2 separate regions of the Homo sapiens genome follow, and region 2 is linked to region 1. The links come from fine-mapping of genetic effects on gene expression. A gene starts in region 1. The other region holds a variant in brackets. All regions are shown on one strand. Distances are from middle to middle.

The links.
Region 2: its variant is fine-mapped to the expression of NT5C in whole blood (INTERVAL, PIP above 0.99).

What each region holds. Positions count from the first base shown.
Region 1 is chr17:75,130,330-75,133,235 of GRCh38, reverse strand. It overlaps NT5C (5', 3'-nucleotidase, cytosolic), which reads left to right and starts at 1,494. Exons shown (of 5, transcript NM_014595.3): 1 at 1,494-1,702; 2 at 1,955-2,055; 3 at 2,131-2,191; 4 at 2,369-2,483; 5 at 2,594-2,906. The coding sequence starts at 1,529. The coding sequence ends at 2,748. RefSeq lists silencers at 1,332-1,901, 2,271-2,475 and an enhancer at 2,512-2,601.
Region 2 is chr17:75,383,573-75,386,478 of GRCh38, reverse strand. The region is part of intron 2 of GRB2 (growth factor receptor bound protein 2); the gene reads left to right. Among named protein-coding and RNA genes, the nearest start is that of GRB2, 21 kb to the left of the region's middle. RefSeq lists a silencer at 1,544-1,744. The variant T/GCT (reference allele first, on the strand shown) is at 1,423.

The sequences.
Region 1 (2,906 bases):
CAGGGTCTCCCTGTGTTGCTCAGGCTGGTCTTGAACTCCTGGGCTCAAGCTGTCTCCCACCTGGGCCTCCCAAAGTGCTGGGATTACCAGCCTGAGCCACGGCGCCTGGCTTTATAGTTTGTAGGCAAATAGATTTGAGTGGAGTCAGGAAGTTTCATGACATCCACAAAAAGAAGAGTCAACAAAATGTATCACAGTTCAGCATGTTCTTTTTTTTTTTTTTTTTTTTTGAGAAGGAGTTTTGTTCTTGCTGCCCAGGCTGGAGGGCAATGGCATGATCTCGGCTCACCGCAACCTCTGCCTCCTGGATTCAAGAGATTCTCCTGCCTCAGCCTCCCGGGTAGCTGGGATTACAAGCATGTGCCACCACGCTAATTTTGTATTTTTAGTAGCGACAGGATTTCTCCATGTTGGTCAGGCTGGTCTTGAACTCCCGACCTCAGATGATCCGCCCGCCACGGCCTCCCAAAGTGCTGGGATTATAGGCGTGAGCCACCGCACCTGGCCCTGTTCAGCATTTTCTAGACGGGAGTAGGTAAGCGATGTCAGTTCCACATAAAGTCCTGAGGACAGTCCTGATTACCTGTGCTTGATCAAAATCATCTTTCCGGGGGAAACCACACTTGAAGCTCCCATGTTTCAAGCCAACTCTAGTGTGAATTAGTCTCTTAACGAGCTAGACTTACACAAACCAGTTAACAGATTCATTTCACTTTGTAGTCCTCGAGGGATTGTTCCTGCTCCACTGCACAGACGAAAGCAATCCACTGAGACCACGGTACTGCGGTAATAAGACTTTGGCCAGGTGCGGTGGCTCAAGCCTATAATCCCAACACTTTGGGAGGCCAAGGCAGGCAGATCACTTGAGGTCAGGAGTTTGAAACCAGCCTGACCAACATGGCGAAACCCCGTCTCTACTAAAACTACAAAAATTAGCCAGGCGTGGTGGCGGGTGCCTGTAATCCCAGCTACTCGGGAGGCTGAAGCAAGAGAATCGGTTGAACCCGGGAAGCGGAGGCTGCAGTGAGCCGAGATCGCGCCGCCACTGCGCCGCAGCCTGGGCGACAGAGCCAGACTCCGTCTCAAAATAAAAAAAAAAAAAAAGAAAAAAAGAAAAAAAATGTGGAGCTAGCCCCACGGGTTTAGGACCCTTGACTCCTCGTTAGATGCTTCCCAGTATTTCAGAGCATCCCTTTGTTGGGCCCCCGGAAGGTCGGTCCCCTACTAGTAACGTGGGGTGAACGGGGGTACGTCTGCCGTAAAGTGGGAGGCGGCTGATGGGGACAAAGGCTGGGTCCCGAAGAAGCGCAGGGTCAGAAAAGTGCCCCCCAAAGCCGTCCCTGCACCCGAACCCTAGGATGGCCTCGCGCAACCGCAGGGCCGTCGGCACTGGTTTACGACCTGGGCGGGGCGGCCCGGACACTCTATGCAAATCAGCCCGGCGGACTCCGGAAGCAGCGCTCCCTCCGCTTCCGGCCGAGCCCGCGCCCCCCAGACCCCGAGAGCTCGCAGCTCCGGCCCGGCGGCGATGGCGCGGAGCGTGCGCGTGCTGGTGGACATGGACGGCGTCCTGGCCGACTTCGAGGCCGGCCTCCTGCGGGGCTTCCGCCGCCGCTTCCCTGAGGAGCCGCACGTGCCGCTGGAGCAACGCCGCGGCTTCCTGGCCCGCGAGCAGTACCGCGCCCTGCGGCCCGACCTGGCGGTAGGGGGCGCAGGGTCCCCACCCGGGCAGGGCCCGCTCGCTCCGTTCCGGGGGTCTCCCCCTTCTCTGTGAAGGGCGCAGAGCTCTCACCCTGGAACCCGCGGGCAGCGCACCCTGGGGAGGAGCCTTTGGGCGCGTGCCCCTGACCGACGCCCCCTCCGCCCCTCTGAGCTCGGGCCCGGAGCCCCCAGGAGCCTCCCTGCGGGTCCTCGCGGGAACGGGAAGCCGGGACCCAGAACTCTTGTCTTTCAGGATAAAGTGGCCAGTGTGTACGAAGCCCCGGGCTTTTTCCTGGACCTGGAGCCCATCCCGGGAGCCTTGGACGCTGTGCGGGAGATGAACGACCTACCGGAGTAAGGAGAGAGGGGGGCGGGCGGAGTCCTGGGCGGGCTCCTGGCTCCCGGCGGTAACCGCGTCCTTCTCCGCAGCACGCAGGTCTTCATCTGCACCAGCCCCCTGCTGAAGTACCACCACTGTGTGGGTGAGAAGGTGTGGCTGCCCCGCCCCTACTCCGCACGTGGAGCTGCCTAAATCCTGATTTTAAAAAGAAACCACCAGAAACCCAGAAGGTGGGGGTGGGGGGCTCTCAAGGGCTTAGAGCCAAGTCCCTATCCCTGAATTCCGGCTTCCATCAGGCCCTACTCACAGACTGTGTTTTCTACACAGTACCGCTGGGTGGAGCAGCACCTGGGGCCCCAGTTCGTAGAACGAATTATCCTGACAAGGGACAAGACGGTGGTCTTGGGGGACCTGCTCATTGATGACAAGGACACAGTTCGAGGTTGGACCCGTTATCCTTGGCAGCCTCCAGGCCTCTGGCCTGCCCGGATTAGGGAGAGGGAGTAATAATACCCATGACAGATGGCAGCGCGCTGTCTTTCACTGTCCTAGGCCAGGAGGAGACCCCAAGCTGGGAGCACATCTTGTTCACCTGCTGCCACAATCGGCACCTGGTCCTGCCCCCGACAAGGAGACGGCTGCTCTCCTGGAGTGACAACTGGAGGGAGATCTTAGATAGCAAGCGCGGAGCTGCGCAGCGGGAATGAGCGGGGATGCCGCGGGCAGCAGCTGGAGCTAAAGGAAGGGCAGGCCCACAGGGGCCACCGCAGAGCCGAGTCGGGGCGGCATCGTGCTGGTGCCTCTGGCCCCGTGGAGTGGAGCAGGCAGATACCGTTAAGCGCTGTGCTACCGGGCCCCAGGCCCA
Region 2 (2,906 bases), 250 kb before region 1:
TGGTAATAGGTATCAGAACATAAAATGATCCAGCAAGTAACATTTTAAGAATTTGTTCTAAGGCCAAGCGCAGTGGCTCATGCCTATAATCCCAGCACTTTGGGAGGCCAAAGCGGGTAGATCACTTGAGGTCAGAGTTTGCGACCAGCCCGGCCAACATGGTGAAATCCCGTTTCTACTAAAAATACACAAATTAGCTGGGCGTGGTGGTGTGTGCCTCTAGTCCCAGCTACTCAGGAGGCTGAGGCATGAGAATCGCTTGAACTCGGGAGGCAGAGGTTGCAGTGAGCCGAGATCATGCCACTGCACTCCAGCCTGGGCGACAGAGTGAGACTCCGTCTCCAAAAAAAAAAAGAATTTATTCTAAGAAACTCATAAACAAGTTTTTTAAAGATGTAGACATAAGGATGTTTATTTCAATTATGTATATACCACCTAGAAAAATTTTTTTCTGCCAATACTGTCAATTGTAAGATGCATTTTAGAGATGTTAAAACACATAAAAGTGGCATGCACCTTCCAGTTCATGAAATTGCCATACAAGCCAAAAAGCAAAACCAATTAGTGGGGTTTACAGAGGTAGATTATGGCACCTATTAAGTGGCAATGAAGGTGTTAACGTTGATCTGTATCAACACAGAATAATGCCTACACTTGCACAGAGAAACGTTTAAATGGATCCTGTTTTAATAAGTAATAATATAACTAACATATTAAATACTTAGCATGCCTTTGCTCTAAGCTAAGTATTCAACTTCCCTTCTCTTTTAATCTCACGCAAATCTTGTAAAGGCAGATGCTGTTATCCCCATTTTACTGACAAAAAATCTGAGGCTTAATTTGCCCAAATTCACAAGTTAGGATTCAGATCCAATCTGGTTTAGTCCTGATTTTATGTTCTTTTGTTCTTTTCCCTTTTTTTATTTTTATTTTTTATTTTCGAGATGGAGTTTCACTCTTGTTGCTCAGGCTGGAGTGCAATGGCACAATCTCAGCTCACTGCAACCTCCACTTCCGTGGTTCAAGTGATTCTCCTGCCTCAGCCTCCTGAGTAGCTGGGATTACAAGCATCTACCACCATGCCCAGCTAATTTTTGTATTTTTAGTAGAGACAGTGTTTCACCATGTTGGCCGGGCTGGTCTCAAAATCCTGAACGCAGGTAATATGCCTGCCTCAGCCTCCCAAAGTGTTGGGATTATAGAAGTGAGCCACCACGGTCAGCCTTATTTTCATTTTTGAAACAGGGTCTTGCTCTGTCACCCAGGCTGGGATGCGGTGGCATGATCTTGACTCATTGCAACCTTGACCTCTCAGTCTCAAGGAATCCTCCTACTTCAGCCTCCTGAATAGGTGGGACTACAGCTGTGCACTACCACACCTGGATAATTTAAGGGTTTTTTTGTTTGTTTGTTTGTTTGCTT[T/GCT]TTTTTTTTTTTTTTTTTTTTTTTTTTGGTAGAGCCAGGAGGTCTCACTGTTGCCCACGCTGGTCTCGAACTCCTGGGCTCAAGCGATCCGCCTGCCTCCCAAAGTGCTGGGATTACCGACATGAGCTACCGCGCCCGGCCTCTGTAAATAAAGCCTTTCTATACACAAATGAGGTCAAACTAGAGAGAGAGGCCATTTAGGAAAAATTGCTGTCTTTTCCTCTTTTTTTATCATATACATAGATCTCTTTCTGAATGGTCTCCCAAGGAGTAATTGTTGTCTCCAAGTAACTGAATTTCAGGTGACTTTTACTCTTCATACTCTTGAATTAGTTACCATATGTATCAGTTTTATTATTTATTTTATTTTATGTTATGTTATGTTATTTTGAGACAAGAGTCTCTGTTGCCCAGGCTGGAGTACAGTGGTGTGATCTCACCTCACTGCAACCTCCACCTCCCGGGTTCAAGCGATTCTCCTGCCTTAGCCTCTTGAGTAGCTGGGATTATAGGCATGTGCCACCACGCCCGGCTTATTTTTTGTATTTTTAGTAGAGACAGGGTTTCACCATGTCGGCCAGGCTGGTCTCAAACTCCCGACCTCAGGCGATCCACCCGCCTTGGCCTCCCAAAGTGCTGGGATTACAGGGGTGAGCCACCATGCCCAGCTATCAGTTTTATTAAAAGAAAAAAGTTACATTCAGATAGTAAGCAGTTTACATTCTGCATCTAGTTTACCTTGAAGGATATTCTAGGAAGGTGAAGTGCTCTGCTGAGGAGTGGTTTTGTTTCTTAAGCGTTGAGATTTAACCTGATTTTAAATCTTAGGCTGAAGTTCACTGTGACTGTGCTCAGGATCATAAAACTTTGAGACATTTGAAAAACTGACCCAAAATGACTTTTTGAGGAAAACCTTCGTCCTTTTGGCAGCTACTCCCTTAATTTTACCTCCTTCTGGATGTGGAATGAGAGACATCTGAAGTATTGTAAAGAATACTGGCTCTAGGCGAGACCTGCCTGCTTGGAATCCTAGCTCTGTCACAGACAGATCGGGCATTGCGATCTTGGGCAATTTACGGGATGGCTTTGTGTTTTGGTTCTGACATCTGTAAAATGGGAACAATAGTTTCCTACCTTCCTGGGGTCATAGTGAAGACTAAAAGAGCCAATATGTTGGTGTTTTTTGTTGTTGTTGTTTTCTTTTTGGGAAGGAGTCTCGCTCTGTCACCCAGGCTGTAGTGCAGTGTAGTGTAGTGGTGCTGTCTTGGCTGACTGCAACCTCTGCCTCCTGGGTTCAAGCGAATCTTCTGCCTCAGCCTCTTGAGTAGCTGGGACTACAGGAGCGTGCCACCACACCCAGCTAATTTTTGTATTTTTAGTAGAGACGGGCTTTCACCATATTGGCCGGGCTGGTCTCGAACTCCTGACCTTGTGATCCGCCTGCCTCAGCCTCCCAAAATGCTGGGATTACAGGCGTGAGCCAC